Linked DNA regions of Homo sapiens. The protein of the gene in region 1 purifies or fractionates together with the protein of each later gene. This does not show direct contact. Each region holds a gene or a part of one and is shown in the gene's direction. Other genes may lie near its edges.

Region 1 (3,500 bases):
CCGTCCTCTCTTGAGTGACTGATGGAGGGCTGTGACATGGTTGCTCCGGTACCTGCTGGCAGAGGGGCAGGCAGCCCACCTAACCTGGTCCTTACGCCATCAGACCATAGCAGCCACCAAACCCAGCTACATGGTGACATTCAGATTGGTGGCCCTTTTTCCTGTCAGCTACCCGGGCACATCTAGCAGTCTTGAGGATTGGCAGGTCTGGTGGGAAGAAGAATTCATTCTTCTTCTTCTTTTTTTGACACAATGTCTCACTCTGTTGCCCAGGCTGGAATGCAGAGGCAGGATCATGGCTCACTGCAGCCTTGACCTCCCAGGCTCAAGTGATCCTCCCACCTCAGTCTCCCTAGTAGCTACTAGAATGTGTGTATTTTTGACAGAGATGGGGTTTCTGAGCCGTGGGCTTCTTTCTCCTTCCGGCAGTGTTGTTCCCAGTGCTGGGACACCAGTGTGGGAGCTTTGTGGTCAGCTTGCGGGGAGGGTGTTATGTGCAATATTTAGAACTAAGGTCCTCCCCAGCCTGTTACCCCAAAGGGCTCCCTGATTGGTGAAGTGACTGCTGCCTTTCTTCATTGTGGCTGAAACCCTTGTGCGTGAACAGTAAAGTGAGGGGTCAGTCTGCGAGCGGATTCAAGAATCTGAAGAGGGAAGCCAGGTGCAGTGGCGTGCGCCTGTAATCTCAGCTACTTGGGAGGCTGAGCAGGGAGGATGGCTTGAGCCCAGGAGTTTGGGGCCAGCCTGGGCCACATAGTAAGACCCCATCTCAAAAAAACAAGAATCTGAAGAGAAGTTTAAGCAGGCTTCTCTCTAGGCACAGCCAAAGGATTCTGCTAAGGGTGAGAAGACCCAATCACGGATCTAAGAAGAACCCCGTTGCATCTGTTAGAAGTATTCTTGAGCTGGCTGGGCGGGGTGGGCCTACTGCTTCTGGAAAGTTCCTTCTCTTTCAGGACAGGTTCAGAATATAGTAGTGCAGAATATAGTTCTGGGGCCAGTAACAAATTTGACCAATGAAAAATCTTGGCTGGGTGCAGTGGTTTCTGCCTGTAATCCCAACACCTTGGGAGGCTGAGGCAGGTGGATTGCTTGCAGCCAGGTGTTTGAGACCAGCCTGGGCAACGTGGCAAAACTCCATATCTACAGAAAATACAAAAGTTAGCCAGGTGTGGCGGTATGTGCCTGCAGTCCCAGCTACCCTGGAGGCTGAGATGGGAGGATCACCTGAGCTGTACTCAAGTCTGGCGACAGTGAGACCCTTTCTAAAAAAAAAGAAGAAAAAATTCTCCAGCTTGTCTTGTGTTTAGTTTCCCTTCTCTTTCCTCATAGTTGCTTCCCAAAGGCCTCGTGCTCCTTCTCAGGGCATTTTCCCGTTTCCCTCTGACCACTTCTCTTGAAGCCCCTAGAGTGTTCCTGGGTCTTAAGCTTTGAGTTGTGTTTGAGGACTGTACCCGAGTTCCATATGTGGACTCTTCCGTGTTGACCCTGTAGCTCCAGGAGTCAGGCAGACGGTCTTGGACCTACGATTTGTCAACTTTGGCGACAGGCATTTGCTAGAAGCCCCCTGCTCTCCTCGTGTGGAGGCAGCACGTGCGAGGCGGTGAGCTGCAGCTCCCAGTCAGCTGCGCGTTTTCCACCGAGGGTATTTTCCCTTTACCATGGGTTTATCAGGATGTAGCAGCTGCTGCTGCTGGGATTCCTACCACCCACTGTTGCTGTGTGTCCTCAGCACGGCCACTGCCATTCTCACTCTGCCTCCTTTAGGTTAGGCCTTGGCAGTGTGGGAAACACATCAGCCGAGAGTTGGTGCCCAGCATGCACTCGAGGCCACCCTCATCCAGGCCCCGTCTGCCTTTCCGAGCTCACCTTCCACAGTCTTCCCCCGCTCCACTCTCCGCCCTCTGATGGCCCATGCTGTCCCACGGCTGCTCCCTCTGTCTGCCCCACCCCCTCCAGCACTCCCTGTGCTTGGCTGCCCAGCTCGGGCTGCCTCCTCCAGGCGGCTGCCCCTATCTGCTGTTGGGAGGAGATTCCTCTGCCCTTTGAGTGTCCTCGACACTTTGTGGGTCCATGAGAATCCTTATTTTTCTGCTGTGTATTTTCTTTCCCTTTGTTCTTTGTCCTCCTGGACTAGAGCTCTCTGAGGTCTTGGCAAGCCTCACAGCAACTAGAACAGCCCCTAAGCGTGGTGTGCCTTGGTGACAGCACTGTGCCTTGGGAAGCTTATGGCAGAATGGCCACCCGTGGAGCACGGAGCCGCCCAACTGTCATCGCTGTCCTGAAGGGTGAGGTGGGCCTGGGCTCTGCTGCCAGGACCCAGCTGAGGCTTTCTAGTTCTCTCTCCTTCTACCGTGGCAACCGTCTCCTCATCCCCCTGCCATCTCCACCGCCGCCAGCAGTCTTCAGAAGCATCGGTCTTCCCGGGCCACTCTCTGTTGGGCCTCAGGGTGGTTGACTCATTGCTCTGTAGGATGCAGTCGAAACTGCTAGAGTTGACTGTGAGACCAGGAACTGGCAGCCGCGAGGGCTGTCTGTCCTTCCCTCCAGGAGCAGTGCCGTCGCCCTCCACCTACTGCGCTTATTCTTGCCCATCCATCGGTTTCAGCTTACGCGTCCCCTCCTCAGGGATGCCTTCCCTGGTCCCCGCACCCGACTCCACTTCCTCCCTCCGTGCTCTGCTGGCACTGGCGCTTCTCCTCTGCAGCCCTCCCTGCAGGTGTGGTTGTGTCTGTAGAATTGTTTTCTGCCTGGCTGGCTGCCTGGTTCACAGCCCGGTGCCTGGCACAGAGTCCCCACTCCTTGTTAACGGAGGACTGGACCCCACCGTGAGTTGTTGCTGTGCTCTGAGCCAGAGGAAGGGAGGCGTGGAAGCTTCCCTGGCCCTCCAGGGTCTGCTGGTGCTCTCGGCTTTGCGGTCGTTTCTCTTTATTGATCAGGGTTTTCTGTGCCCTGAAGCCACTGAGTCAGGTGTCATATAGAGCATATCAAGAACTTGAAGCCAGGCCAGGCACATGGGCTCACACCCGTAATCCCAGCACTTTGGGAGGCCAAGGTGGGAGAATCTCTTGAGGTCAGGACTTCAAGACCAACCTTTGTAACATAGTGAGACCCCATCTCTACAAAAAATAATTAGCCAGGCATGGTGGCACACAACTGTAGTCCTAGCTGCTCCGGAGGGTGAGGTGGGAGGGTCTCTTGAGCTCGGGAGTTGGAGGCTGCATTGAGCTATGATCACACCACTGCACTCCAGAAAAAATAAAAATGTAAAAGAACTTGAAGCCAGGACTTGGGGCGGGTGCTCTGAGTGCAAAAGACAGAAGATGCTGTTATCCAAGGGGTAGAAGCAGATTTGGGGACCCTGGACTTCTCTCTGCACTCAGCAGGATGTGTGACTTGTGAAGCCTGGTGTGAGACTGGCCCTCTGCCCTGGGGGCCTTTCTGCCAGGTCCCTGGCCCGCTGACTCACGCCCCCTTCCTTACCCAGGAGAGTCGCGGTT
Region 2 (3,500 bases), on another chromosome or scaffold:
GGCATGATGAAAGGAGAGTAATAGCTCTCTAGCAACCTACTTGGAGTTGAGACCTATTCCTTTTCATCTGCCATTGCAAAGGCTTGATGAAGTGTGAGAATGGGGTTGGTAGGGAAGAGAGAGAATAGAGATAAATTTAGGAGGTCACATATGATATAGAGATGCTAGTTACTTTGTAGCATGGAGTAATGGAAGTAATGCTGGACTAGCAAGTCTAAGACATAGGTTCTAGTCCCAGCTGTAGCCTGTGAGCTGCAGGACCTGGGGAAGTTGCTGTGCTTCTCTGCAAAATTTGGAGAGGCAGCATAGGGTAGCAGCTAAAAAAGTGAGCTCTGGAACCAGACTGTTTGGGTTTCAGTTTTGGCTCAGTCATTTCCTGATGGTGTGACATTAGACAGGTTACTTTTCTTTCTCTGCCTTGATGGGATTGTAACTCTGGTGTAGTTGTGAGAAGTATAAAAGCTCTTAGAAATGGTACCTGGCCTTGGAAGTGCTGTGTAAATGTTAGCCATTATTACTGAAAGCAGTAAGTTATATCAGATTTATCTTAATAAGGATAAAAAAGATAGTAGGAGGAAGTGCTTTCAAAAGTGGAACATTGTAGACAAATGCAAAGTGTTTATGGTCTTGGTGTTACGGTAATTTGTTTCCTGGTGACTGAGCTAGTTTTTCAAGTATTCTATAATTCTGTCTGTCCATGTGTGGAAATAAATAGTGCAGTGAATACAAGCGTGGGTAGAGTCTGGGGCTAGACTGCCTGGGTTTGAGTCCCAGCTTCACCATTTACTTATTGTGCGAAGTTGGGCAAATAGTGTAACTTCTGTTTCTCAGTTTCCTCATATGTAAAAATGGGAATAATACTACTACCTGCATCTTGGACTGTTGGAGGATTCCATTAATATATATTTGTCAACAGCTTGGAGTCATGCCTGGCATGGCTTATTTGTGTTGGCATTACTGCTGTTTTTCTTGTGGTAGGTGTCTGCCTCCTTCCCCTACGGACATGCCCACACTTCTTCTCCACCCTTGGTCCTGCCTTATGTCTGATGGGCTGCTTTGCCCTAGATGTTGTGAACTAGAGAATTGTTAGCTCCTCAGTGGGTCACAGTTGGGGAAGATGCTGGTCTTGGACAGGGACTGGCTCCCTGCCGTTTGGGCCATATTGGTTGTGGGCTTGATCACTTTCCAGGACTCCCTGTAACCAAGTTCTTTTTTCTAGTCCCTCAGGGCCGGGAGACCGAGTGGCTCTTTGGCATGGATGAGGGCCGGAAACAGCTGGCGGCCAGTGCTGGCTTCAGGAGGTTGATTACAGTGGCCCTTCACCGAGGTCAGCAGTATGAAAGCATGGACCACATCCAAGCTGAGCTGTCGGCTAGAGTCATGGAGCTGGCCCCAGCTGGGATGCCCACCCAGCAGCAGGTAACAAAGCTTTCGTACGGCTTTCATGGGTCTCTGAAGTCATGTTAGCAGCCAGGGAGGCAGAGGGAGCCTTGGCAGGAGCTAGGACTAGAGTCTGTGACTCTTCATCTAATCCTGGAGGGGTATCAGCAGCTAAGGGTTAAATGGCAGGGAAACTGTCCTTTGCCCCAGGCAATGAGAGGAAAGTGAGCACAGTAGCGTCTGTGTCTGGGGGAGCCTCTCAGAGTCCATAGACATGGCAGGATGGAAATGCTCTACTCATTGCGGGCTTCAGTTCTTCCTAATTTGAGTTGCTCTGACTGTGGATTTCTCCTTCCACACTGGACTTTCTTGGTCATTTTGCTTCTTAGAACTATCATTATCTGAGGGTATAAATGGAAGAGGGCCAAAACAGCTCAGCACAGTTATCCAGGTATTCACATTGCTGGTCAGGTGTTTTACTGGGAAGGAAACCGAAGGTTTTTGCCTAAGTGGTGATATGGTATTATCAGTTAACACCAACTGTCTTGTGCTATCCTGGTCACCATGGGTAACGAACAAGTGATTTTACTAAAAGAACTTCATGATGAGGAGTTGATCCTTTTTTTTCTTTTTTGAGATAGGGTCTTGCTCTGTTGCCCAGGCTGGACTGGAGTTCAGTGGTGTGATCACGGCTCACTGCAGCCTCAGCCTCAACCTCCTGGGTTCAAACCATCCTCCCACCTCAGCCTTTGGTAGTAGCTGGGACTATAGGTGCAAGCCACCATACCTGGCTAGTTTTTTTTTTACATTTTTTGTAGAGACAGGGTCTCCCTATGTTGCCCAAGCTTTGATCCTTCTTGATAGGTGGGAAAGCAAAGGTATCTAGAGGCTTGGTGCAAATAGTAACAGATCTGAAAAAAAAGAACCCAGGCTCCTGGGTTCCTGGCCTGTGGTTTTGCCCACTAGGCTGACTCGTGTTTACAGATGAATGTAAGTTTGATTCTTCCTGGCCAACTTTGGGGTTGATGACCCCTATTTCAAGGAAGCCCAGATCCTCTGAGGAGCTTCATTTGTGGCCTCTCACCAGTGCCTGAGTCTGCAGGGTCAGGAGATATTGGTGATTATTAACTAGTCTTATAGGTCTTTAAAAAAAGAAATAAAGATAGGGGGAAGGAGTGGGAAAGTTTAGGGGGAAAGTATATTTTTCTCCTAAGGTTCAGAAAAGTGGGGGAAAAATAGATGAGAATAATCAGGGGAAAGGAATATCTCTCTAGATTTGGAGTGGTTGTTTCTCCCATGGATTTTGTTATCTTTATTCTTGTGTAGATTCCTTCTCATAATCACAGCCCCTTCCTGAGGGTTCCCTCTAGCTTTTGTTATCCTGGACTATTGAGAGTTCTTTTAGGGGTTACTGATGAGAAAAACCCCTAAAAGAACTTGGGGAGAATCAGCTGCATCTCACTAGTTGTTTGGGAGATCTTTATGTGTCCAGTTGATTTTCAAAAGATGAATTAAACCTTTGAGATCAGTTCAAAGGCTCCAGAAAAGTACTTTAATAGAATGGCAAATCTGTGGAGTAGTTGTTGTCTAGAACCGTGGTATGGGGATATATACACACAAAAGGGAAGGGGTTATAATTTCTCTTATTTCTTAAATGAGCTGCTGTTTTGACCACATCTCTGGTTGTACCTTCAGGTCCCCTTTCTGTCTGTGGGTGGGGACATTGGGGTCCGGACCGTTCAGCACCAAGACTGCAGCCCCTTGAGCGGTGACTATGTCATTGAGGATGTGCAAGGGGATGACAAGCGATACTTCCGTCGACTGATCTTCCTCAGCAACAGGAATGTGGTGCAGTCCGAAGCCAGGTTGCTGAAGGATGTGTCTCACAAAGGTGAGGTGTCATAGGCACAGTGGTGGGACCCAAGTGGCCGTGGCATGGACTAGATTTCTTGGGAGCTTGGCCGAGATGTAGGATGGACCTGGGTGTCTGTAGGTTCTTAACCATCTGGACTCTTAGGGTGTGAATAGCTATAAGCAGAGTACATTCTGTTCTTGAGCAGAGCCTGGCTCTGAAGTGATAGGGGACGTGAGTAGTGAAACCAAATACAGTGATAATCACA

The links.
Region 2: the proteins of NTMT1 (region 1) and METTL13 fractionate together in Homo sapiens (co-fractionation; one large-scale study listed by BioGRID). This does not show direct contact.

Annotation. Positions count from the first base shown.
Region 1 is NC_000009.12:129,629,163-129,632,662, forward strand, and holds part of NTMT1 (N-terminal Xaa-Pro-Lys N-methyltransferase 1), read left to right. Parts: intron 1-3,487; 5' UTR 3,488-3,500. UniProt on the Homo sapiens protein: Distributive alpha-N-methyltransferase that methylates the N-terminus of target proteins containing the N-terminal motif [Ala/Gly/Pro/Ser]-Pro-Lys when the initiator Met is cleaved.
Region 2 is NC_000001.11:171,784,660-171,788,159, forward strand, and holds part of METTL13 (eEF1A lysine and N-terminal methyltransferase), read left to right. Parts: intron 1-1,219; coding exon 1,220-1,419; intron 1,420-3,075; coding exon 3,076-3,271; intron 3,272-3,500. UniProt on the Homo sapiens protein: Dual methyltransferase that catalyzes methylation of elongation factor 1-alpha (EEF1A1 and EEF1A2) at two different positions, and is therefore involved in the regulation of mRNA translation.